Linked DNA regions of Homo sapiens: region 1 is linked to region 2. Evidence: fine-mapped QTL for protein levels in blood plasma. A gene starts in region 2. The other region holds a variant in brackets. All regions are shown on one strand. Distances are from middle to middle. Region 1 overlaps NUB1 (negative regulator of ubiquitin like proteins 1). Region 2 holds the start of NUB1 (negative regulator of ubiquitin like proteins 1).

Region 1 (15,445 bases), 17 kb after region 2:
TGTCACCCAAGCTGAAGCACAGTGGCATAAATATAGCTCATTGCAACCTCAAACTCGCGGTTCAAGCAATCCTCCTACCCAAACCTCCCAAGCAGCTAGGGCCACAGGCATGGGCTACCAGGCCTGGCTAATTTTTAAAAATTTTTTGTAGAGATAGGATCTCTCTGTTGCCCAGGCTGGTCTTGAATTCCTGGGCTCAAGCCATCCTCCCACCTTGGCCTCCCAGGGTGTTGGGATTACAGGCGTGAGCCACCGGGCCTGGCTAATGTCTTTTTAATGGATAATAAATCGCAATTTTGTTTTCCTACAATTTTCACTGGTTTTATTTTACAGAATAGCTGAAACCTTTGGACTTCAAGAAAATTATATCAAAATTGTCATAAATAAGAAGCAACTACAACTAGGTATGTATGGCAAAGTATGCATAATTTTTTAATGAACCAAATATAGAAATAATGACTTCCCTTTTTTTCTCAATGTCTTTTCAAAAATTTGTAGCTTTATTTCATTTATAATCCAAAAGTGATTTAGAAGTTTACTAAAATAAAAATGTAAAGCAGAAAATAGCTTTTCCAATAAATATTTACTGTCTGTTCTATGATAGTGGGAAGAAAGACACTCATTACAGCTTAGATAAAATGTTAGAGAATGGAATGTAAGGTGTGCTGAGTGTAAGATGCCAGTTCCAGCAAATTCTTCTTGAAGGAGAAGAGCTAAGGCTGTGTCAGGACAGTGGGGAGGCCATGGTGGCGTGCGTTCCAGACTGAGAGCCTTATGTCAGAGCACTATGGTGTGAATTTGAGGAACTGAGGAAGGTCCAGTGTGGCTGTGTGTGGAGAATGAGGGGAGGGGAGTGCTTTTTAAGGATGGAGGGGCAAGCAGAGGCCACACTGTGAATTCCCAGGAGACATTTGGCATTGTCTGGAGACATTTGTGGTGCTTATAACTTGGTGACGGGGGAGGTTGTGCTGCTGTCATTTAGTGGGTGGAGGCTAGGGATGCTGCTGAATGTGCAATGCCCAGAACAGGCCCCACAACAAAGACTTGTCCAGTCCCAGATGTCAGTAGCGCAGCTGTTGGGAAACGAGAAACTAGATGACCTTCCTCAGTGTTAGTACATTTCTCCTAAGATACATGGGAAGACATCTGTGCTGCGGAGTGATACACAATTCTGTTTGTGTTTTAGAAAGGTCACGCAGTAGGGGAATGTATTTGAAGGTGGCATGAGTTGACTTGGGGAGACCAGTTAGCTACTGCAGCCATCCATACAAGCACTGTAGCCCACTGGTTTCCAGTGCGTTCCTGTGGCCTCGAGAATGAAGTCCACATTTCTTAGCTTGATCTAAGACAGCCCTTCACAGCTCACCCTAGCCTTGCTTTCCAGCGTCATCTCTAGCAATTTCCCATTGTCTATTTTAGATGTCATGGATATCTTTTCACTGTTGCCTCATCCCTCTGTTAATTCTGTTTGTGGCATCCTTCATTGGACAGAAACCTTGATTTTGATGTCATCAAATCCATTGCCTATGGTTTGTGTTTTGTTGAAGTCCTTTCCCTAACCCCAGGGCCACAAGGATAGTCTACATTTTCTTGAATATTAGCTTAATCTATAAGAGGTCTTCAGTCTGTCCAGAGTCCCCCTTTCTATATAAAGTTTAAGGGTTCCTTTATTTTTCTTCCTATATAATTCATTAAATAGTCTGTCTTTTCCCTGCTGATTGGTGGTGACCCTTTTTGGGGGGCCCTGTTCCTATATTTTCTGTTCTTCCTACTCACCTGTGGTGTTTTTTATTACTGTGGCTTTGTTGCAGTCTTAAAATCTGGTGACCTCCCCCCACCCTTGCTTTTTTTTTTTTTTTAATCAAGATGGCTTAACCACTGGTGGACCTTTATTTTGTGTGTTAATGTTAGAAAGGTTGTCATATTTCTCAAAAGAAAAAAATCCAGCTAGTTTTCCAGAAATGTGTTCACATTTGTGTTTTTTAGTTCACAATATTATTTGTTATTTTAAAATCTGTTTGCATCTATGTTTACCCTTTTTTATTTTGTTTATTTGCATCTTTGACATAATTTTTGTTAGATTTGTGTATTTGGCTAATTTATTCATGGAGCCAGCTTTTGATTTTGTTACTGTTTTCTTTCATTCTGTTTCACTGATTTCTGCCCTTTATTTCTAATTTATGTATGAGGAAACTGAGTCCTAGAAGATAGGTAGTTTATTCAGGGCCACAGAGTTAAAACGGTAGATGGAGCCCATGGTCTTTGCTTTTATTTATTTATTTAGAGATAGGGTCTCTATCTGTCACCCAGGCTGGAGTGTGGTGTGCGATTGCAGCTCACTGCAGCCTCCACCTCCCAGGTGCAAGCAATCCTCCCACCTCAGCTTCCCACTGAGTAGCTAGGACCACAGGTGCATACCACCATGCCAGGCTAATGTTTTATTTTCTGTGGAGACGGGGTCCACTGTGTTGCCCAGGCTGATCTTGAACTCCGGGGCTCAAGTGATCCACCTGCCTCAGCCTGCCAAAGTACTGAGATTACAGGTGTGAACCACCACGCCCTGCTGGTCTTTGCTTTTAACCGTGACAGACTGCAGTACAGCTTCTTGTTTGTAGCTGTGAATTGGCTTTATTATTTTTTCAACTAGAGGGTAGGAGAGGTGTGTTATACTTTCTCATTTTCCGTTTATATTGTCTAGCACAATGTTCTCCCTGTAGTAGATTATCAAATATCTGTTGCTTTGATCTGGTCTTAGGCTGAGAATAAAGAAGATTAGAAAAGATGAATTTAGTTGATTCTATTGTCGCTAGCTGATTTTAACCACTGCTTAACAGTGACATAGTTACAACCAAATGTAGGCATATTTTTACCAATTATGTGGCGTGATGGTATGCAGGATTAAGAATTCCATTTTGTCCAGGAGCAAGGCCTGATGTCTGTAACCCAGCACTTTGTGAGGCTGAGGTGGGAGGATCACTTGAGCCCAGGAGTTCAAGACAAGCTGGGCAACATAGTGAGACTCCATCACTGCGAAAAATACAAAAATTAACTGGGTGTGATGGCATGGGCCTGTAGTCCCAGCTCCTCGGGAGGCTGAGGTGCAAGACTTGCTTGAGCCCAGGAGATGAAGGCTGTGGGGAGCCATGATCGTGTCACTGCACTCCAGCCTGGGTGACAGAGTGAGACCTTGTCTCAAAAATAAAAACAATTCCATTTAACATAGAAAATGGACTGTTACCTGGTAAGCTTAATGGCTTTTTAAAATAATAGGCAGTTCTGATTTTTATAGGGAAAACCCTTGAAGAACAAGGCGTGGCTCACAATGTGAAAGCGATGGTGCTTGAACTAAAACAATCTGAAGAGGACGCGAGGAAAAACTTCCAGTTAGAGGAAGAGGAGCAAAATGAGGCCAAACTCAAAGAAAAACAAATTCAGAGGACCAAGAGAGGACTAGAAATACTGGCAAAGAGAGGTACCCAGAGCTCTGGGCTTGTCACCCACTCAGCTGCTTGGGGGCAGCACTGGATCACACAGTTGGGGGATCATGGCTCTCACTGAGTCTCACCTCAACAGTCTAACATTTTTAAGGCTGTCATCATCATAACTGTTTAACATTGAGTTCATGGAGGTCCTTTTGGTTTTGTTACAGCAGCAGAGACAGTGGTGGATCCAGAAATGACACCGTACTTAGACATAGCTAACCAGACAGGCAGATCAATCAGAATTCCCCCATCAGAAAGAAAAGTAAGTACTATGAGAAATGTGTGGCCTGTTCTTAGATTTGTTGTCAGGGCAGAGGTGGTTTTTTAGTTGCTTTATGTTGGAAGTGTTGTAAAGGGTTGGAAACAGTGCTCCATCTCCAGCCTCGTAAACAGAAAATGTCACCACGTGGTGAGCACTGGCATCCAATGGGCCTCACCCTGTGCTTTTCAGCGCATTAGTACAAAATGTCATGTCTCACTGTCCTGGAGCAGTGACTTTCAACATACCTGAGGACACGACCCACTGCCTTCAGTGCATGCAGCTTCCTGTGGCAGTGCTTTACATTTAGTTTATTTTACTAGAGAACCTTGTCCCCTAAGGGATGGATCAGAATAGGGGTAGGGAAACTGTGTCGTTTGGGAAAAGTCCACAGGTGATTCTGACTTCTCTTCCCTATTTCCTCATACTCTTTCCCTGTTCTATAATTTGGGATAGGTAGGCGGAGGTTTAATCTTAAACATATCTGTGGGTTTTTTGTTTGTTTTTTTGTTTTTGAGACGGAGTTTTGCTCTTGTTGCTCAGGCTGGAGTGCAATGGCTCAGTCTCAGCTCACTGCAACCTCCGCCTCCTGGGTTCAAGTGATTCTCCTGCCTCAGCCTCCTGAGTAGCTGGGATTACAGGCATGTGCCACCACGGATGGCTAATTTTGTATTTTTAGTAGAGACAGGGTTTCTCCATGTTGGTCAGGCTAGTCTTGAACTCCCGACCTCAGGTGATTTGCCCACCTTGGCCTCCCAAACTGCTGGGATTACAGGCGTGAGCCACCGAACTCTGCCGTGTTTTTGTTTTTTTAAGACACAGGGTCTTGCCCTGTCACCCAGGCTGGAGTACAGTGGCACCATCATAGCTCACTGCAGCCTTAACCTCCTGGGCTTGAGCGATCCTCCCGCCTCCGCCTTCTGGGTAGCTGGGACTGCAGGTACACACCACCATGTCCAGCTAATTTTTTTTTTTTTTTTTTTTGAGATGGAGTCTCGCTCTGTTGCCATTCTCCTGCTTCAGCCTCCTGGGTAGCTGGGATTATAGGCACGCACCACCATGCCTGGCTAACTTTTGTATTTTTAGTGGAGACAGGGTTTTGCTATGTTGACCAGGCTGGTCTTGAACTCCTGACCTCAGATGATCCGCCCGCCTCGGCCTCCCGAAGTTCTGGGATTACAGGTGTGAGCCACTGCACCCAGCCCCTTGGGGGCCTCTATAGCAGCATTCTGGAACTTGGACTCTAAGATCAATCTCTGAGAAAGGGTTCAGTAGCTTCTTATAATGAATGACTATGGGTCAAATTAATTTTAATTTTTCTGTTTTTAAGGGATGGTTTTGAGTAGGCTTCATTCTATGAGTTACTCTGTTTAAAATTAAAGATTAAAGTTTTTTTTTTTTTTTTCTTGAAAAGGAGTCTTACTCTGTTGCCCAGGCTGGAGTGCAGTGGTGCGATCTCAGCTCACTGCAGCCTTCGCCTCCCTGGTTCAAGCAATTCTCCTGCCTCAGCCTCCCAAGTAGCTGGGAGTACAGGTGTGCCCCACCATGCCTGGCTAATTTTTGTATTTTTAGTAGAGACGGGGTTTCGCCATGTTGGCCAGACTGTTCTTGAACTCCTGACCTCAGGTGATCCACCCACCTCGGCCTCCCAAAGTGCTGGGATTACAGGCATGAGCCACTGCGCCCGGCCGGATTAAAGTTGTTTTCATAACAGAACTGTGGATCAGTGTTTGAGTTATCAGTAGATTGATGTTTGTCTTTTTTTGTGTGTGTGTGAGGCGGAGTCTCGCTCTGTCATCAGGCTAGAGTGCAGTGGCACAATCTTGGCTCACTGCAACCTCCGCCTCCCGGGTTCCAGCGATTCTCCTGCCTCAGCCTCCTGAGTAGCTGGGACTACAGTGCACGCCACCATGCCCAGCTAATTTTTGTATTTTTAGTAGAGACGGGGTTTCACCATGTTGGCCAGATGGTCTCAATCTCTTGACCTCGTGATCCGCCTGCCTCGGCCTCCCAAAGTGCTGGGATTACAGGTGTGAGCCACTGTGCCCGGCCAATGTTTGTCTTTTGAAAATGATGATTACTTGCCCACTGCTCTCTTACATTGAATGACGACATCCAGATCTTTTTGGAAAACCTTTATCACAGGGGTTCCCACCCCACAGGCTGCAGATGGGTACCAGTCCGTGGCTTGTTAGGAACTGGGCCACATAGCAGGTGAGCAGCAGGCAAGTGAGCGTCACCGCCTGAGCTCCACCTCCTGTCAGATCAGCGGCGGCATTAGAGTCTTAGGAGCATGAACCCTATTGTGAACTGGGCATGTGAGGGATCTAGGCTGTGCACTCCTGATGAGAATCTAATGCCTGATGACCTGAGGTAGAATGTTTTCACCCTGAAACCATCTGCCTTCCTCCTTGTCCATGGAAAAATTGTCTTCCATGAAAGCAGTCCCTAGTGCCAAAAGGTTGGGACTACTGCTTTATCAGACTGAATTATGCGAACATTTAAATTGAAAAATCTAATGAACTTCAAAAAATTTTGGATCACCTTTTAAAAATTGTTTTGGGGCCGGGCGCGGTGGCTCACGCCTGTAATCCCAGCACTTTGGGAGGCCGAGGTGGGTGGATCACAAGATCAGGAGATCGAGACCATCCTGGCTAACACAATGAAACCCCATCTCTACTAAAAATACAAAAAAATTAGCCAGGCGTGGTGGTGGGCGCCTGTAGTCCCAGGTACTCGGGAGGCTGAGGTGGAAGAATGGCGTGAACTCGGGAGGCAGAGGTTGCAGTGAGCCGAGATCGCGCCACTGCACTCCAGCCTGGAAGACAGAGCGAGACTCTGTCTCAAAAAAAAAATAAAATAAAAAAATTTGTTTTGGAAATACTAAAGTTGACAAACAACTTCTGAAAAAACTAGATGATTAAGAATAGAAAGTGAGGCCGGGCACGGTGGCTCATGCCTGTAATCCCAGCACTTTGGGAGGCCGAGGCGGGCAGATCACGAGGTCAGAAGATCGAGACCATCCTGGCTAACACGGTGAAACCCTGTCTCTACTAAAAATACAAAAAAAAAAATTAGCCAGGCGTGGTGGTGGGTACCTGTAGTCCCAGCTACTTGGGAGGCTGAGGCAGGAGAATGGTGTGAACCTGGGAGGTGGAGCTTGCAGTGAGTCGAGATCGCGCCACTGCACTCCAGCCTGGGTGACAGAGCGAGACTCTGTCTCAAAAAAAAAAAAAGAATAGAAAGTGAAATGAATGCCCTTTTTAAAGATACAAGCAGCCGGGCACCGTGGCTCACGCCTGTAATCCCAGCATTTTGGGAGGCCAAGGCGGCACATCACCTGAGGTCGGGAGTTTGAGACCAGCCTGGCCAACATGGTGAAACCCCATCTCTACTAAAAATACGAAATTAGCCGGGCATGGTGGCTCATGCCTGTAGTCCTAGCTGCTCGGCAGGCTGAGGCAGGAGAATCGCTTGAACCCAGGAGGCAGAGGTTGCAGTGACCCGAGATCGCACCACTGCCCTCCAGCCTGGACGACAGAATGAGACTCCGTCTCAAAAAAATAAAATAAATAAAATAAAAATGATACAAGCATTACTGGCTGCTTTTTAATATGTTTAGTCTGAATAGAATATTAGAAGTAGAATCCAGATCAGTGGATACGAAAATAAACTAATGAAAGCAAAGGGCCAAGTGCTGGTTAGGATTGTATCAGCTATAATAAATGAAGTGTTTGGCTTCAGTATTTAAATGAAATAAAGCTTTAATTAATTATATTTTTCTTAATTTTGGCTTTTAGATTGAGTTATGATCTTGTTTTCATTTTTTTTACTTTGTTTTTTAAAAAGTAATATGCTTTTAATATAATTTGCCTTATTATATTTTAAAGTGATGTTTTTTAAATTTGTATTTTTTCCTAGGCCCTTATGTTAGCTATGGGATATCATGAGAAGGGCAGAGCTTTCCTGAAAAGAAAAGAATATGGAATAGCCTTGCCATGTCTGTTGGACGCTGACAAATATTTCTGGTAGGCGCTTTTGTACTTGGTGAACACCAGCTTTAAGGAAGATGGCCCAGACTATACAGAAC[AC/A]CCTGCCATGCCCTTGAGACTGCAGACTTTCATCTACAACAGTGGTTAATGTAAAAGAGTAGTTATGGTGTAAACTGGTGAATTTCTTCTTCCCTTTGTATTTCTAATTGACCTTTCCTCCCTGTAAAGAAAAGAATTTTCAAGCAGGTAGGATATCCTCTCTTCTTCTGTACATGTGCTATGTTGCTAGTCGGAACTTTCCATTATAAAGTTTCCTGTCAGCTTTTCACCTAATGGTTTTGGGGTAGTATTGATGATTATTCCTCAAATCCGTTGTTTAAGAGCTGTATAATGGTGATATTATTCCTTCTGTACTTATTTTTTTTGAGACAGAGTCTCACTCTGTCACCCAGGCTGGAATGCAGTGGCATGATCTCAGCTCACTGCAACTTCCATCTCCTGGGCTCAAGTGATCCTCCCACCTCAGCCTCCTAAGTAGCTGGGATCACAGGTGCACATCACCACAGGTGCACATCACCATGCCCAGATAATTTTTTTGTATTTGTTGTAGAGATGAGGTTTCACTATGTTGCCCATACTAGTCTCAAACTCCTGGGCTCAAGTGATCCACCCACCACAGCCTCTCAAAGTGCTGGTATTACAGGTGTGAGTCGCTGTGTCGGCTTTTTTTTTTTTTTTTTTTTTTTAATTATACAGATGGGGTCTCCCTGTGTTGCTCAGGCTGATCTTGAACTCCTGGACTCATGTGATCCTCCTGCCTTGGCCTCCCAAAGTGCTGGGATTACAGGTGTGAGCCACCGCACCCAGCCTCCCTTCTGCATTTATTGCTGGAATTCTGAAAAATTTGTTTTTGCTCATCAGTTATTTTATATGTGGAGGTACAATTTGTATAGGAAAGTTAGAATAAAATACTTTGTTTCTTTCTCCTTATTTTCTTGTTTTCAGAATAAATGAGTTGCTTCACTATCACCCTCCAAAGGTGACCAAAGAGGTTTCTTTTTCTTTTCATTTTCTTAAGTGTCATTATTAACTCATGGATTTAAAACATTTGATGTGTTTCAAACTTCAGTGCTTAAATTGGTCATGCTGGCTGGCAGGCAGCCCATGTTTTTTTGACCTGACCCTGCTAGTCTTTGCAGTCTCTGATTTCTGGAATCCAAAGATACTCCAGGCTCATCTTGGGCATTTAATGCCCAGACCAGGAATCAGCAATTTCCCAAGGAGTCCTGGTTCCTCTTCATGGGAAACGGTACTAAGAGACTATGATGCAGACATATTCAACATTTGAAAAGTAGACTTGATTTTTTGAAAATGGTCAAAAGTTAACAAATTTAGTGTTAACTTCTTTTCTGTTTTGGTGCATTCCCAAGATAATACTGTATACTCCCAGAAGATGAATGCAAATATTTATAGTTTTCCATTGGTCAGTGCCTTTGGGTTCTAAGTGAACAAGTCCCAACTTTAACGTACACAAAAAAGGAATTGGGAGGGGAGGGGCCGGGCTGGGAATAGTGAGAATGAGGGCTGGTTTGTGCTTCTGGGGTCTCTGTCTCTGCCTCTTTCTGGATGTCAGTTTCATTCTCTTCTGCAAACAGTGTAGGGTAAACAGGCTTTAAATTAGGTCCTAAAAGTTTAGGTAAATTTTTCATTCCCTTCCATAGTTGTTTCTAATTTTTTATTATGGAAAATTTCAAATAGTCATAAAAATAAAAATTAGTATAATGAGCTTCCATATACACTCATAACTAAGCTTCTGCAGTTATAAAGACATGGTTGATCTTCATACATCTGTGTGAGCCTCCCTCAATCTTTTTATCCTGGACAAATCCTTGAAATAATTTTTAGGTCTCAGGGAACCATTGAATACAAATTTGGCTACATCTTCAGTTCATGATACATTAACATGTCCGGTAAGTGGTAGGTATAATAATGAAATAATAATTAACAATGTCTTTCTAAGTAGAGAAAGTTTTTTTTTTCCTGGGCATCTATTTATCCTGGGCATCTATTTATCCTGGCCAACTTGTTAGCATATTTTTGTGTGTGTGTGATTTCTCTCTTTTCATAAAGGAAATCAGCAGTAATGTAAGCCAAATAGAATGCAGATGGAGGAAACTTCAGTTTTTCCATTTCCTTTTCCATTTGACTTTTCCCCCTTACTTCTCCAAGTAAGCTAGAAGTTTTGTCACAACTTCCTACCATATGTCTTGGAGTATGGTATGTAGTATGACCAAGAATAGTTTCTTTCCCCAAATTGTATGAAACAGTGACTTCCTGGCAGTGCAGAACGGTGACCCTGAGGTAGGGAAACATGAGGGGAGCTCAGTGTCTGGAGAAGTTTCAGGTTACGGGGCAGGGAGGGCAAACCCAGGCAGAGCCTTGTGCTCCCTGGAGTTAAAGAGATGGAGCTGGGCTTGCAGGAGGCCAAGGAGGTGAGAGGAGCAAGCTGCCAGAGAGAGGGTGTCAGAGAGCTTCAGAGGAGCCCTTTTGAGTCTTCTGCTCAGTAATGATCAGCACATGTGTGTGAGGAAACCGCCCAGGGCTGGGCAAGGTACCACATGAAAGAAGCAGGGAATAATCCTCCGAGTTCATAGAAGGCCAGGAATAGTTTATGTTCCCACCAGCCAGAGTGGAGGATTTGGTAGTCACAGGGCGTCAAATAGAGTCTTCAGAAGGGTGTTGCCTCAGCACTAGGGCATAATTTGGTTTCACTTAACAAAGCTTAAAAGCTACTCCTGAACAGTACCCTTAACTTACCGTTTTCAAATAAGTGCATCCCTAACAAAACTCAATAATTTAGCAATTCAAAAATATCCAGCATCCACTGAAAAATTAGCAGGCATGCAAAGAAACAAGCAAATGTAACCTATAACAAGCAAAAAAATCAGTCAGTAGCAACAGATCCAGAAGTGACACAGAAGATAGAATTAGTAGACAAGGACATTAAAACAGTGACTGTAATCCATCTGCTGAAGAAGGCAGAGGAACAACTGAACATGTCAGATAAAGACATGGGAGACATTCAAAAGACCCACATTAGAATGTAAGAGATGAAAAGTACAACATCCAAGATGAAAAGTACATTAGGTGGGATGAACTGCAGAATAGACACTATAGAAGAGAAGATTAGTTAAATGTTACATAAGGCAATAGAAACTATCTGAAAAAACAGAGAAAAGGCTAAAAAAAAAAAAAAATGAACAGAGCATCTGCAAGCTGTGGCACAATTTCAGGCGGCCTAAAATGCATGTAATTGGAGTCCCTGGAAAGGCAGACATGTGGGACAGAAACAATACTTGAAGAAAAAAATGGCCATTAATTTTTCCCAGTTTGATGAAAACTATAAACCCCCAGATGCAATGACTTTAATGACCCCAAGTACAAGAAATATCAGAAAAAAACTACACTACAGCACACTATAATCCAATTCCCTAAAACCAGTAATAAAATTGAAAATGACTTTTTAGCTAACCTTTCTTGAAAAAAGTTAGGTAAGTTTGGCTTATTTTTTTATTTTATTTTTTCAGACGGAGTCTCACTCTGTCGCCCAGGCTGTAGTGCAGTGACGCAATCTTAGTTTACTGCAATCTCCGCCCACTGTAACCTCTGCCTCCTGGGTTCAAGCGATTCTCCTGCCTCAGCCTCTCAAGTAGCTGGGATTACAGGTGCCCACTACCACTCCCGACTAGTTTTTGTATTTTTAGTAGAGACGGGGTTTCACTATGTTGGCCAGGATGGTCTTGAACTCCTGACGTCAGGTGATCCGTCCGCCTCAGCCTCCCAAAGTGCTGGGATTACAGGTGTGAGCCACCGCGCCTGGCCTAAAATTTTTATGTTAAATAAATATTAATTTCAAGAAAGGTAAGCCTGGCCGGGCGCGGTGGCTCACGCCTGTAATCCCAACACTATGGGAGGCCGAGGCAGGCAGATCACGAGGTCAGGAGATCAGACCATCCTGGCTAACAGGGCGAAACCCCGTCTCTACTAAAAATACAAAAAATTAGCCGGGCATGGTGGCAGGCGCCTGTAGTCCCAGCTACTTGAGAGGCTGAGGCAGGAGAATGGCAGGAACCCGGGAGGCGAAGCTTGCAGTGAGCCGAGATTGCACCACTGCACTCCAGCCTGGAGGAGAGAGCGAGACTCCGTCTCAAAAACAAAAACAAAAAAAAACAAAAAAAAAAACAAAAAAACTGTAAGACAAACATAATAAATTTCTGTTAAATAACCGACTTAAGCTCAAATGGGATTTAATTTTTGTTGTTGTTGTTTTTGAGACGGAGTCTCGCTCTGTCGCCCACGCTGGAGTGCAATGGCACGATCTCGGCTCACTGCAACCTCCGCCTCCTGGGTTCAAGCAATTCTCCCACCTCAGCCTCCCGAGTAGCTGGGATTACAGGCACCCGCCATCATGCCCCGCTAATTTTTGTAGAAATGGGGTTTCACCATGTTGGCCAGGCTGGTCTTGACCCTCTGACCTCAGGTGATCTGCCCGCCTCGGCCTCCCAAAGTGCTGGGATTACAAGCGTGAGCCACTGTGCCTGGCCAGGATTTAATTTTTTGAAAGCTAGGCTCAGTAGATTTTATTTAAATAAATATTTTACGTTTATTTTAATATCGTCAGCATGAAAATGTAACAGTGTTGAATATTAATGCTACTAAAATTGTAAACCAAAGCAATGTTAATAAAAGTACACTCTAAATGAAATTTTTTATTTTTATAATTTTTTTTTTTTCTTTAGAGACAGAGTCTCTATGTTGTTCAGGCTGGTCTCAAACTCTTGGGTTCAAGTGATTTTCCTGCCTCGGCCTCCCAAAGTGCTGAGATTACAGGTGTGAGCCACCACACCCAGCCTTCTAAATGCAATTTATACCAGGCTTTAAGAAACCACTTTGCCCCAAGCAAATGATCAGGTTTAAATATAGTTTTATATATAATAATAAGTGTTGATTTCTCAAAACTAAAAGGATGACATGTACCCCTCTAATATGAGACCTCTGCTTTGGGTTTTTTGTGTGTTTGTTCATTTTGTTGGTTTTCTTCTCTCTCTTTTTTTTTTTTTTGGCTGCACAAATAAATACTCACTCCTGGGTCAAACTTGAGATAAGTGCATATTGATTTTATTTTTAACTGACATGAGGCCATTTCTGCCCACGCTCTTGATGCTTAGTAAAACATGAACGAGCCTGTTAAAGCAACATGCAGGAGATGGAGAAGTTCGGCCACATGCCCATTGCTTTCCTGCGAGTGGCAGGAGAGTCTTCTGTCACTGGGACCAGAATGTGCCTAGAGGCAGGAAATCTCAACACGACTGTGAGATCAGACCACAATCCACAAAGCGCTGCTGTTTCTCTCAAAGGCAGGTTCTCAGGCTGAGCCGTAGATTTGGAGAAAGCACCCCTCACCCAGCTCCACATCTGTGTGTCTGCGTGCACACGTGTGTAAAACATGGTGTATGTGTTCTCAAACATTCACGAAATTAGAAATGTTGAGAGAGATGAAAATAAATATAAAAATACTGCTGTGATACATTTTTCTTGCCGCACCCACAACTGGACTGTGTACATGGGCCCTCTTTAGGAGACTACTGTTTTAAAGAGTAAATGACAAAATTAAAGTCCTTTTTTTTTTATTCCATGCATATTTTGATAGGCAGGACAGGAAGCTTGAGGCCATGTGGATTTTGTAGTTTTATACAAGAGCATTCTTATTTTTAGTAGAACACCAATGAACATAAAGAGAGAAAACCTTGTTCATATACAATGTGTGGTTCCAAATGTTCTTATTGAAGACTTGAGACCTAGATTGGCATTAGGAATTTTTAATGTAATCATAACTTAAAATTAGTCACCTTGATGGCTGTCTTTGTCAGTGCTCCTCCTGGAGCACACTGACTTCTGTTGCTGTCTTTCTTCCCTTTGCTGCGCCTGGGTTCAGCCTGCTGCCACGAATACGGAGTCAAATTTTGCCTGCACACAGGCCCTCAGAAATCAGCTGGGCCGTTAGAGCCTGGTGCTTTCTGGATTGTTTTTCCCCCAGCTTGAATATGATTGAACATGAATGCCTTGTCAGAGCCGTCATCAGCTGAGGCATTCATAGTACGTAGGGATTTTTTTGGTGTCTTTAAAGAAGTGGTGTTCAGCCCTGGCTGTACACTAGAATCAGCTGGGGAGACTCTGGCAGTATAACCACCAGGCCCAACCCCCAGAAATTTCTGTTATGTTTGGTCTGGGTGGGATCAATGATTCTTAAAGAAAGAAAGAAAGAAAGAAAGAACGTTGCTCTGGCCCAGGTGATGCTGATTTGCAGTCAGGATTGGAAGTCACAGCTTTAAAGCATGGTCTTCCCCGTATTTGCTGAGGGCCTCTGAAACAGTGGCCCTGGGTTCTGCTTCCTATCAAGGGGCTGCATGTGTGTCCTGGGGCAAGTGGTGGTAAGCTTTGATTCCTAAGCCCTGATTTCTGATTTCTCTTTCTTTCCCCCATTAGAAGGATGAGATTATAAACACAGCTCCCTTCCTAAACATTAGGATCTCTCTTTTAGAGCAGTCAGCCTTTGAATATATACCAAGAACGGGGAAAGAATTCCAGTCATTCACAAAAAGGTTTCAAATGCTAAAAATGTTTCAAATGCTGCTTGGCAGTGATGTCACTGTCCTTCTCTTTCCAGTGAGTGTTGCAGAGAGCTGCTGGACACAGTGGATAACTACGCCGTCCTCCAGCTGGATATAGTGTGGTGTTACTTCCGCCTGGAACAGCTGGAATGCCTTGATGATGCAGAAAAAAAATTAAACTTGGCCCAGAAATGCTTTAAAAATTGTTACGGAGAAAATCATCAGAGACTGGTCCACATAAAAGTATGTTCCTGGAATTCATCTTATGTCTCGTTGAGTCCATTTCTAGCATTTGTGTTTATTCCTGTTAAAGTATTTGAACTACTGCCAGAAGGTAATTTCATTTTGATAGTAGTATGCAGTATAGTCTTTTTAAACTATATATTTATAAAGTGTTCAATGTTTTACAAATCTGGCTGTCTCTCTTACTTAGCGTGTGAGCATTTAGCCCAAAGGAACATGGTTTGCTAGTCATAGAACCCCATCAGTGATCACCCTGACCAGGAGAGAGCTGCTGACTTCTTTATATCGGTAGAGTCTAATTTGCAAGATGTAAATGCAGAAAATAGACATTTCAGCAGTAATGGTTTACGTGAATGAGTCACAGCTCAAGAGCTGTGGCTCGAGTAAGGATTTTTCTGATTTCCCCAAGTCATCAAAATCCTGCTGATGCAGACTCTCTGATACCTGGTTTGGATTTCTGCATACTTCTCTGCTGACCAGAAGGGCCACTGTGCTGCATGTCTGGAGGCTGGTGCCCTGACACTGACTCTCCTGTGTGGCATGAGGAATGTTATCATACCACAGGGGATGGGGAAGAGGGGGCTTCACTTTTGCCGTCAGTCATAGTGAAGCCATGGACATTTTAATACCTATCATGTTGCCCCTCTGGAGACCAAGGGAATGACAGAGATGAGTATTATAGACCTGTAATTAGAAATAAGGCAATTTTATCCTTTTTTTCTTCAATAATTTTAGGGAAATTGTGGGAAAGAGAAGGTACTGTTTCTAAGACTCTACTTACTTCAAGGGATCCGAAAC
Region 2 (12,131 bases):
CTCAGCCTCCCAAGTAGCTGGGACTACAGGCATGCGCCACCACGCCCAGCTAATTTTTGTATTTTAATAGAGACAGGGTTTCACCATGTTAGCCAGGATGGTCTCAATCTCTTGACCTCGTGATCTGCCCACCTTGGCCTCCCAAAGTGCTGGGATTACAGGCGTGAGCCACCGCTCCTAGCCCATAAATAATTTTTTAACATGCTGTTTGGAGACATAGTAATTTTATTCAGCATCTTAGTTGGATATGAAGAACATGGAAGAAAGAGAAATCAAGTTAGTGGTGAGGAAAAGTTGTTCACATCTGATTGGGAATCCAGAATTTCAATCACCCAAACAGATGATAGAAGCTAAAAGAAGTTACAAGGTCATTGCATAGGAGGATTACTCTGATTCCTAGGAAACATGGGCTAGGATGCCTTATTTCAGTGGAGGTCATGAATTCCTGTTGCCATAGTCACTGTGAGAAAGGGCTTGGCCTTCTCACCTGTGATTCAGGTAGAATCATTCTGGAAGCATGTAATCAGTCCTCAAATTTTGTGTTCTGGTTTTGAATCTCTGACATATTCTGGTCCAAATTTTTTAACCCAGGTTCATTTGTCTCAATAGTTGGGTAGGTGCAGCTGGGCGCGGTGGCTCACACCTGTAATCCCAGCACTTTGGGAGGCCAAGGCGGGCAGATGACGAGGTCAGGAGATCGAGACCATCCTGGCTAACATGGTGAAACCCCGCCTCTACTAAAAATACAAAAAATTAGCCGGGCATGGTGGTGGGTGCCTGTAGTACCAGCAACTTGGGAGGCTGAGGCAGGAGATTGGCGTGAACCCGGAAGGCGGAGCTTGCAGTGAGCTGAGATTGTGCCACTGCACTCCAGCCTGGGTGACAGAGCAAGACTCCGCCTCAAAAAAAAAAAAAAAAGTTGGGTAGGTGATACACTTACTCTAACAAGATAAAAAAATAAGGAGAGAGATGATAAATAAATAAATCCGTGGTATTAGTACTACTGAATTAAGTTCAGGATCATCTGTTTGTGTTTTATCCGTGTTTGTTTTTTAACCCCTTTTAATGTTAAAAAGAATTCGATATACAATATTAGTCATGTGACTTTAAGTTTAAGGGTGAATAAAAACTAAGGTGACCTTGGAAGTAAGAAGGTGGCTACTCATCACTGTAGGCTTACCATCTGAGAAACCTCCATGGGAGGCCAGAATAACTTACTTCTTTTGCTTTTTTAAACTTAATTCCAGAAGACATCACATATGCATGACAAAGATAAAAGCACAAGTCTGCACCATTTCTGTGTTCTCAATAAATCTTATTGCCTAAAATATTAAGGAACGTTGAACTAAACATGTGTATTTTCTTTTAGCACATTAAAGATGCCATTCCATTGTCTTCTGGATTTATTGTTTCTGAAGTCAGCTGACAATCTTAAAAGGCAATGCATCTTTTCCCCGGCACCTTTTTTTTGTTTAATTAAATTAAATTAATTTTTTTTTTTTTGAGATGGAGTCTCAATCTGTTGCCCAGGCTGGAGTGCAATGGTGCAATCTTTGCTCACTGCAACCTGCATCTCCCAGGTTCCAGCGATTCTCCTGCCTCGGCCTTCCAAGTAGCTGGGATGACAGGCGCCCTCCACCACAGCCAGCTAAGTTTTGTATTTTTAGTAGAGACGGGGTTTCATCGTATTCGTCAAACTCATCTCGAACTCCTGACCTCAGGTGATCCACCTGCCTCAGCCTCCCAAAGTGCTGGGATTACTAGCGTGAGCCACCGTACCTGGCCCTGGCACCTTTTAAGATTTTATCTTTTTCCTTGGTTTTCAATGGTTCTACTAGAATGCACTGGGTGTGGCTGATTTTGTATTTATCCTGCTTAGGAGTCATAGAACTTACAGAATTTGTAATTTGATGTCTTTCATCAGTTTTGCGAAACTTGGACTCTTGGTTATTATCTTTTCAAATATTGTTTCTGCCCCTTTCTCTCTTTTTCTAGAAACCTGAATACCTGGTAGAACTTTTCATCATGTCCCATGTGTCTCTAATGCTTGTTTCTGTATTTTCCATTCTTTCCTTCTATGCTTCAGTTTGGATATTTTCTATTGATGTGCCTGCAGTTCACTAATCGTGTCTTTAGTTTTGTCTAACATCCAGAGTTCACAGCCTCATTTATTACACTTTTCACCTCTAGAGTTTTCATTTGATTTATTTTTATAGATTTCAATACTCAGGTGAAAATTTTCATCTTTTTTTCTGTTTTCTTGAAAATGTTCATCAGAGTTATTTTAATCAGGCAACTCCAATATCTGACTCATCTGTGGGTCTGTTTCTATTGTCTTTTTCTTTTTTTATCTAGTAACTTTTTAATGAGATGCCAAATATAGCTTCTAAAAAGTTGTAGAGGCTTCAAATGTTATCATTCTCTCAGGAGGGTTTTTCCCTTTCCTCCACAAAACCAAAGACAGGAGTGGCCAATAACCTTAATCCAATCAGGGACTGCATGGAGTGAAGGCTGGGCTGAGGTTCTGGTAGGGTTCAAGCTACCGTTGCCCTCCAGTTTCCAACTGGGAACATGGTGTAGGCTCTGCAGTAACCCACTTCCACCACCACCCTAGCAGATCTCAGACTCGAATCTTTGTTTTGCAAGTCTATCAAAAACTTCTGCTTTCAGAGGCCTTCCATTTACATTTCAGTTTCTTGCCCCATACAAGCCTTGAATTCAGCAATTGTCCTTGGAATTTCCCCCTACATCGCTGTGTTGGTTTTGTGTCCCCAGCAGTGGCCCTCTGTGGTCTCAAAGTCTAAATTCTCAGCCTCATGCTTGTATCCAGAACTGGCAAAAGCCCTCACACACCAATACAAGCCACTGCAGACATTAGCTCACCCCTTGAAGGTTCCTCATTCTCTGGAATATCAAGTCCCCCCATTCTTGCCTCAGCAGCTTTCACTGCCTTCAAACAGATGTTTTCTGACTTCGCTTTCTGGCTTTTCTAGTTGTTGTTAGTGGGAGCCTTGGTCTACTGCAAGCTGCTCCATCACACCTGAGCGTGGACATTCAATTTCCTGATGGTCTACTACGTAAATGTAAAAGTGAAACTATCTTTGTTACTCATCTCAGAGAAAGCCCTCAGAAAAAAATGTCAGAACAGTTTCTGTTGTCCTTCTACCTTGCTGCAATTGCTACTGAGCAATCAACGGGCTTTTTCCTGATGTGCTAGAAGCCAACACCATGGCACGGGCTTTTGAGAAAAGAAAGGCTTTATTGTGAGTTGACTGTCAAGGAGACATGAGGAAACCCTCAGCTCTGTCTCCTTGAGCTTGGGGCTGGGTTGGGTTTTATAAGCATAGGGTAATGACGCATGATCGGATTAGATTTTGCGATGAGGTGATGCTGGGATGCTCATCTGACTGGACCCTGCCATGGGGTGACACCAGGGCTTGATCTGATTGCATTCTGGATCTCACCATGCAGTGCCCATTTCTTAATTCAGTCCCTGCTTTGATCTGAGCACTCAGGTTCCGCCCCTGGTTGCATGCTTGGTTCACCTGGGCATCCTCAGGTTACGTGCGAAACCTTCCATCTGGGAGTCCATGCAACTGAAAAACAACTCACAACTTGGGTATATAAAAGGCGAATCAGATTGGTCTGGTGCGGTTATACAGTTATTAATATCCCTTTGTCAGAAGTCAAAATTACCACAAATTTAGATTAAAGATCTATTGGTTTTTATTGATTCATGAATCAGGATGGCATCTTCTCTGAAAATTTAGAAACGGTGCTCCAACGAGCTGGGCAGAGGAGGTGGGCTTTATAGGTAGAAAAGGGCTAAAGAAAGCAGCAACAGGGAACGAAAAACGGATTGGTCACTGCAAGGTTACAGGAGTCCCCTCTCGTCCACACACAGGTGGTGTGTCCCAAGACCCACAGTGGATGCCTGAAACCTCGGATAGTACTGCACCCCATTTTACATACACACACATATATATATACTATATATATACACACACTTCATTTTTCCTATACATACGTACATACCTACGATAAAGTTTAATTTATTAGGCACAGTAAGAGATTAACAGCAATAACTGATAATAAAATAGAAGCGTCACTGTTGAGCACAGCCTTGGGAATAGGACCTTGGAAGTAGGCAGAGCTCCCTAGGCCTTGTGGTCCCTAGTGGCCGTGGACAGCATGGGGGAGGAAATTCCCGGGAAGCAGCCTAATTTCACCCCAGGGAAGCCCCTGGTGGGCTTGTGGAGGGCGGGGTGAAAAGCCGCTGGTTTAGGGAAGGGGTCCAGCCTAGGCTGAGGAATGAGATGCGGGTTGGGACGGTCCCGACCCTTCCCCCAGCCTCTTTCAAGGATTCTGGAGAAACAAAGCCAGGATCCATTTCCTCTTGATGGCTGGCAAACTGAGCCCGGGCGGGAAGTCCTGGAAGACTGAGCCTGGGGTGGCGTTGGACACCAACTCCCAGGTCCTCGCCCCACACGGCCACATCCTCGCCCAGCCCCGCCTCCGCTTAGCTCCGCCCCGTCGCGGCTCCGCCCCGCGGTAACCACGCCCACACAACCGTATCCCCGCCCACAGCTGGCTTCGCCTTGGCCCCGCCCACAACCCTCTTTCCAAGCGGCGGCGGCGGCGGCGGCGCGAAGGCGACAGCGGCGGCGGGGGCGGGGCTGGCCTCACCCGGAATGAAAACAAACGGCGGCCGCTGCCGCATCCGGGCACTCTGCTGGTCGCGGCGGGAGTGGCGTGGCGCAGGTGAGGACACGGCGGCCGAGTGTCCTCGACCCCAGCCTCAGCAGCACTGCTTGGCGCCCCGGTTCCCGGTCCGACTGGGCACCTCTCCTGGCCAGGGGTGGAGCGGCCGCGGGGCGGGGGTGAGCAGCCATGCGTGGAGCTGGGCCGGGGCCGGGGCCGGGGCCGGGAGCGGTGGGCCGGGCTTCGGGACGCGCTGGCCGTTCGGGGCCCTTTGGTTTGCCCTGAGTTAGGCAGAGGTGTGGGGTATTTAAAAGAAAATATTGAGTGTATCGGTTTGGGGAGAGAAAGGAATAAATATGTCTATAAAAAATTAGCCAAATGCTATACTTGAATCGTAACACTCCGAGTATACCATTTGGGATTTATTTGCAATCAAAGCCAGATTTTCTTTGCTATTTAATGACAAGACACTTGATTTTCTCGAACCTTGACGACCTGATTCTATCATTCTCACCTCCTTCCCTTTTATTTTTAATCAAGAATCTTTCATTTTCCTAAGAAAAAATGAATGTGTCTTGACTAGATATAGTTGTGTTTCAACTATATATAATGTATACTTGAAAAGGTGTGGCTAAATGTAGCAATGATCGATTCATTACAAAAGTGAAAGTGAAATTTTTAAAGGATCGTTATAACGTTTCACTTTCTGCTTGGACCACGGAGTGATATTAATGAGTTTCGTCTTTTCTTAGTTACAATGTGAAACATTGTATGGCATGCATGAAACTTTTTCAGTTCTCATTTCAGTTAAAATTAAAAACTGACTTATTAAACTTGACTTAAAATATGTCGCCACTTACTCTGTTGTCTATAACTGAAGTTCCTTAAGTTTCAAGACAGTGGTTTAATTTTTTTTTAACATTAAATCTTATTCGGTGTAACCCTGGAGCTCTTGTTTGCTCCCTGGAGTGTCTGACACGCACTGGGTTTGTAACACTCCTTCGTCCTTCTGTCAAGTGGTGGCTTGGATGGCATCTTTTTAAAAATTTTTTATTTGTTTATTTTTTTAGTAGAGACGGGGTTTCACCATGTTGACCAGGCTGGTCTTGAACTCCTGACCTCAGGTGATCCACTGGCCTCGGCCTCCCAAGTGCTGGGATTACAGGTGTGAGCCACCGCGCCCGGCCTTGGATGGCATCTCTGAGTACCGCATCAGCCTTTCAAATTGCTTGGCTCCAGTAACCAGCCTGTGAAATTACTGTCCCCCAGTGGGGAGACAGTAGGGTTGCTGTGATATTTTATTCAGAATTTCTGAAGATTCATGAGTAGTATGTAAAGTAGTTTTTAAAGTTATTTGTGTTTGAAAAGCTAACGCTCTAAGTACTAATATGCTTTGCTGTGATAAGCCGTTTGTCAGTGCTTGAAAAATGGAGGATTCTCCCATGGGCCACCCAGGTTGCACACAGCAGCCTCATTGGCTGTGTTATTCCTTCCTCTCTTTTCTCCTCCCTGTCCTGATTAGCCTAATTCTTGTCCCCGCACTGACATAAAATAGATTTGAACTTTCTTTTAAAAAATATTTGTTTATGAAATACACAAGCTACCAAAGTTTTCAAAGATTTCAAAGTTGTGTGAATTGGGTTTGGGGGGATGTGGAATACTGGCCCTCAATAGAAGAAAGAAATTTATCTTGGTAATATTAACTCATATTTTTTCCACTCTCTAGAACTTGTCTTCATCATTCAGGGGCTAATAACATTTTTCTTTACTTATTGCTTGTCTGATTTGGGAAACCTTAAAGCGCTGTGCTACACCTGCCAGCTGCCTTACATCTCAGCCGCCTCACTCACCTTTGAATTGCTGTGCTAGTATGGGATGAGTAGACAGCTCCATCGCGGTACATACTTCTCTGGGAGAGAGAAGTTACATACCTGGAACAGGCAAGCAGCAAGGGACTCCATGACGGAAGTTCAGAGTCCAGTGTTGTGGGTGGAAGTTGTGCTCGTTAAGATGCTGCCTAATTTTGTGTCTTTGCCTGAGTCATGGTACAAACTCAGGGCCCTAATTTTCTCAGCTGTAAAATGATCCGATCAGTGTTAGATTTGAATAGTAGGGCCAGGCGCGGTGGCTCAGGCCTGTAATCCCAGCACTTTGGGAGGCCGAGGCGGGCGGATCACAAGGTCAGGAGATTGAGACCATCCTGGCCAACACGGTGAAACCCCATCTCTACTAAAAATACAAAAAATCAGCCGGGCGTGGTGGCGGGCGCCTGTAGTCCCAGCTACTGGGGAGGCTGAGGCAGGAGAATGGCGTGAACCCGGGAGGCGGAGCTTGCAGTGAGCCGAGATTGTACCACTGCACTCTAGCCTGGGCGACAGAGTGAGACTCCCTCTCAAAAAAAAAAAAAAAAAAAAAAAAAAAAAAAAAGTAGATGTGCTGTTAGGCTGTTAATCAGAAAATATGCAAAATTTTCCTAGTATTGTAATCTTTTTAATTTAAAAAATTCTGACATAGAAAATATTTATATATTTATTATTATTTTGAGACGGAGTCTCACTCTGTTGCCCAGGCTGGAGTGCAGTGGTGCCATCTCGGCTCACTACAACCTCTGCCTCCTGGATTCAAGCGATTCTCCTGCCTCAGTCTCCCGAGTAGCTGGGATTACAGGTACCTGCCACCACGCCCGGCTAATTGTTCATATATTTTTTTTTTTTTAGTAGAGATAGGGCTTCACCATGTTGACCAGGCTGGTCTCGAACTCCTGACCTCAGCTCCTGAACTCAGCCTCCCAAAGTGCTGGGGTTACAGGCCTGAGCCACCACACCCATCCGAAAATATTTATTATCGATAGTTTACAGTTCAAGCAAGCTTTTCTTTATATTTAACTACCAGGATGGTTGGCCTTTTGTTTTATGTTAAACTAGCCAAAGTATGAGAGAATTTACAAGCTCACGCCTGTAATCCCAGCGTTTTGAGACCAAGGTGGGTGGATCACTTGAGGTCAGGAATTCGAGACCAGCCTGGCCAACATGGCGAAACCCCGTCTCTACTAAAAATATGAAAATTAGCCGGGCGTGGTGGCGCATGCCTGTAATCCCAGTGAGTAGGGAGGCTGATGCAGGGGAATTGCTTGAACCCAGGGGGCGGAGCTTGCAGTGAGCCGAGATCGCACCACTGCACTCCAGCCTGGGCGACAGAGCGAGACTCCGTCTCAAAAAAGAAAAAAAGAAGTTCACGACTCGAGGGATTTATCTTTCTCTTATTTTCTCTTTTCTCTTAGATAAGAGAATAGCAGATTAAGAAATAGAAACATGTAATAATCCTTGCTACATATTAGCAACTTTGAAATACATATTTTATATATGTAATATATATAATTGAACATATATTTCTATATATATTTTTAGAGAAGTCTGGAGCTCATTTAAACCATAGTAATTTATATTTAATGACAGAGGAAGGGAGCTTTGCTTACCCAACAAAGCACCTTAACATGTAGGTAAGTTATTAACATTTTAAAATGCGATGTGGAGTTTTATTAATGTATTGTTTTGCTTTCAGGGATGGCACAAAAGAAATATCTTCAAGCAAAATTGACCCAGTTTTTAAGGGAAGACAGGATTCAACTTTGGAAACCTCCATATACAGATGAAAATAAAAAAGTTGGTTTGGCATTAAAGGTATTTTTCTTTTAAGACATCAATAATTAGCAGCATTATAAATCTCCTTGGTAAATAAGATTCTGAATTGTCAGGCATGACCATATAAACTTTTGGCATAACCAAAAGCATTAGTGGTGAGCGGGTACCCACTTTTTACTAGGAACTGACAACCTTATTTTTGTTCATTAATATTTTATTCACATGAGGATGTTATCTAATTTTTCAGGCATATATTTTTAATACCATCACAGGATTACATAACATTATTTATCTGGAACTCATTTTGACCCATTAGTGGAACAGTATTGGTGCCAGTAAGTAATTGCATTGTGTGTTCAAAGTGACAGTGTCTTGGCTCATTCTCGGTCCTCCTTGCTATCATCATCTGCTGTGAAACAATTGCTCCTTTTTCCCCCAGTTTTTTTGATGCTCTCACTATCAGTGTTCATTTTTCCAAAATAGGTTTTTTCTAACAGTTGTATCTCAGTTTTTCATGGCATCATCAGAAATGATATTGTATGTAAGTGATGTTTCTAGAAACTGAAGTCTGCTTGCTTTTCTAAGCAGAGAAACAGTACTCATTTTTGCCAGAAATCTATCATACTGGAATTTCCTAGCATGTACTTCTCTGCTCTCATTCAGAGTATCCTGAACATGATGTAACATTTATCAGGGACTAAGGATTGTCATGAGGCATTAAATTGCTCTGTGTTGTGACATAATGATGTGCTTGGGAGGTGACAAACTGTATTAGGGTCCTAGTTCTTCTGTTTCTTCTGTTCCAGGCAGGCCTCACTTTTTCTTTGCAACCCACCTTCTGACCTTGCTTCTGAATTTATTGTTACAGTCTCTTGGTTTAGAAACTAGGTGTGGCATAAAGGAAAAATATTTGACCTTTGTCCCTGGTTCCTGGCAGAGCCAAAACTCTTGGGATTTCCTAAGTGGTAAGCATGATAGGAGCAACCTTTGTGCTCATGAGGCTTGGTTGCCCCTAGATAGCTTCAGGATGGGGCTGGTCACCAAAAGTACCAAGCCGTGATTAGACACTTGAAACTTTCCACCCTCCCCTCCAACCTCTGGGAAGGGGAGATTGAGCTGATGACTAATACTAATGGTCAGTGATTTAATCAGGCCTGCATAATGAAACTTCCATACAAACCCCTAAGTGACAGATTTTGGACAGCTTCCAAATTGGTGAACACATCCACATGTCGGGATGTACACCCCCAACTCCATGGGACAGAGGCTTCTATGCTCAGGACCCTTCCAGACCTTGCCTTAGTACCTCTTCATGTGAATGGTTATTTGTATCCTTTGTAATGAACTATATTCATAAGTATACCATTTTCTGGAGTTCTGTGAGTTGTTCTAGCAAATCATGGAACCTGAAGGGGGTGCTTGTGTGAACCCTCGACTTTGTAGCTAAGTCAGACAAAAGTATGGGTAACCTGGGGACCAGATACTTGGTAACTGGTATCTGAAGTTAGGGCTTTTTTGTGGGCTGAGCCCTTAAACCTGTGGAGTCTAACGCTAACTCTGGGTAGTTAGTGTCAGAATTGAATCGTAGGACTTCCAGTTGGTGTCAGAATTGGCTGGTGACAGGAGGAAGAAAGAAATCCTCACTAGTTAGGTTTTCTAGAAAATTATAGAAAGTTTTTAAAAAAGTATTTATAATATATATTCTAGGTTTTAAAAAGTATGTATATAAATACAAAAATATAAAGAATGTATTTTTAAAATATGTTAAACATCGTTAACATAGGTATATTCTTCCTCTTTTCCTACGTAACTATTAAAAAAATGTATTGCTGGACACAGTGGCGCATGCCTGTAGTCCCAGCTACTCAGGAGGCTAAGGCAGGAGGATCACTTGAACCCGGGAGTTGGAGACTGTAGTATGCTATGGTCCCACCTGTGAATAGCCACTGCACTCCAGCCTGGGCAACGTAGTGAGACCCCGTCTCTAAAAGAAAAAAAAAGTATATATAGGTTTATGTTACTTACAAAATTTTTTTTCCTTTTTTTTTGAGACAAGGTCTTGATCTGTTGCCCAGGCTGGAGTGCAATGGCATGGCCATAGTTCATTGCAGCCTCACACTCCTGGGCTCAAGTGATTCTCCCACCTCAGCCTTGGGAGTAGCTGGGACTACAGGTGCATGCCACCATGCCTGGCTAATATATTTTTAGTTTTTGTAGAGACGGGGTTTCACTTTGTTGCCCAGGTTGGTCTTGAAGTCCTGGGCTTGAGCAATCCTCTCACCTTGCCTTCCAAAGTGCTGGGATTACAGGCATGAGCCATCGCGCCCAATCTATACTCATATCTATAAAGTTTTCCAACTTCACTTTTATCATGAACATCTCTTCTGTCATAAATTTATGCTTACACCATAATTTTTACGTACTACATGGTATTACATTATGAATTTAATGAAACCTTGACCTTTAGGGTTTTTTGAAGTGTTTACTGTTTTATGAGATGTTTAATGAAACATTAACCTCACATGCAGATACAGATTGAGAGGAGTATCCCGTAACTGAAATATTTGGGACTGGAAGTGTGTTTGGATTTTGGAATGTTTGCTTTATACCTACTAGTTGGGCATCCTAATCTGAAAATTCAAAATTCAAAATACTTCAGTGTGCATTTCCTTTGAGCATCTCCAGATGCTGAATTTTGGCGATTTCAGATTTTTAGATTAGAGATACTCATCTGGATTTTTTTGGGGAGGAACCATAATGACTTTGCTCTCAGTAATAACTGGTTCCCATCCTTTCTTGAGCCCTTTCAATCTTCTTTTTTTTCTCAATTCTAAAGCTCTCCCTTACAAATAGTTTTACAACTAGTACCCATGATTCACAGATTTTCATTAAGAGAATTGTTTAAGTCCAACTTGATTTGTTCTCACAAGTTTGAAAAATTGGAATATTTTCTGGGTTTTTTTTTCATTTTCCCTTCCAGTGGAGTTGAACAGTTCATTATACTTTTTAAATAGATCACAGTCACATAAGTCATAGCCCACCCTTTTCTTCTCCTTAGAAGATTCTCTATTATTATTATTATTTTACTATTTGTAGGTAGAAAACATTTATCAAATAAATGTTTTTGTTTTTTGCTTTTTGCTTTTTTTTTTTTTTTTTTTTTTTTGAGGCGGAGTCTTGCTCTGTCACCCAGGGTGGAGTACAGTGGCACAATCTTGGCTCACTGCAGCCTCTGCCTCCTGGGTTCAAGCGATTCTCCTGCCTCAGCCCCCCAAGTAGCTGGGCCTACAGGCACACGCCACCATGCCCAGCTAATTTTTGTATTTAAGTAGTTATGGGGTTTCACCATGTTGGCCAGGCTGGTCCCAAACTCATCACCTCAAGTGATGCGCCTGCCTCGGCCTCCCAAAGTGCTGGGATTACAGGCATGAGCCACCGCGCCCAGTCTCAAATAAGTGTTTTCACTTTTTCCTGGCCTCTCTAAACTCCACACCTCTCAAGATGTCAAACCACAGTGTGGACTGCAGTGTAACGGGGCGACCTCCACTCATCAGAGTTGATGGCCTTAGAGTCTTTCATGCCCTTTTCTATATTTTGCCTTTTTTTTTTTAAGTCAGTATTGCATTTTCTGATTTTTCTTGATAGGACCTTGCTAAGCAGTACTCTGACAGACTAGAATGCTGTGAAAATGAAGTAGAAAAGGTAATAGAAGAAATACGTTGCAAGGCAATTGAGCGTGGAACAGGAAATGACAATTATAGAACAACGGGAATTGCTACAATCGAGGTG

Evidence for each region. A credible set is the group of variants that fine-mapping cannot tell apart. PIP is the posterior inclusion probability: the model's chance that the variant is causal. Protein levels are from antibody-based Olink assays in UK Biobank. Linkage for the fine-mapping came from a reference panel and not from the study's own genotypes, which makes the PIPs less certain.
Region 1: its variant is the best candidate, but not a certain one, in a credible set for the plasma level of the NUB1 protein (UK Biobank, PIP 0.60).

What each region holds. Positions count from the first base shown.
Region 1 is chr7:151,352,479-151,367,923 of GRCh38, forward strand. NUB1 (negative regulator of ubiquitin like proteins 1) reads left to right here. Exons shown (of 15, transcript NM_001243351.2): 5 at 334-404; 6 at 3,290-3,472; 7 at 3,650-3,744; 8 at 7,663-7,769; 9 at 14,461-14,647; 10 at 15,383-15,445. Among named protein-coding and RNA genes, the nearest start is that of NUB1, 18 kb to the left of the region's middle. The variant AC/A (reference allele first, on the strand shown) is at 7,832.
Region 2 is chr7:151,337,086-151,349,216 of GRCh38, forward strand. NUB1 (negative regulator of ubiquitin like proteins 1) reads left to right here and starts at 4,727. Exons shown (of 15, transcript NM_001243351.2): 1 at 4,727-4,761; 2 at 8,263-8,381; 3 at 11,988-12,131. The coding sequence starts at 8,265. RefSeq lists enhancers at 2,999-3,058, 3,189-3,278, 4,348-4,849 and silencers at 4,447-4,646, 4,817-4,996.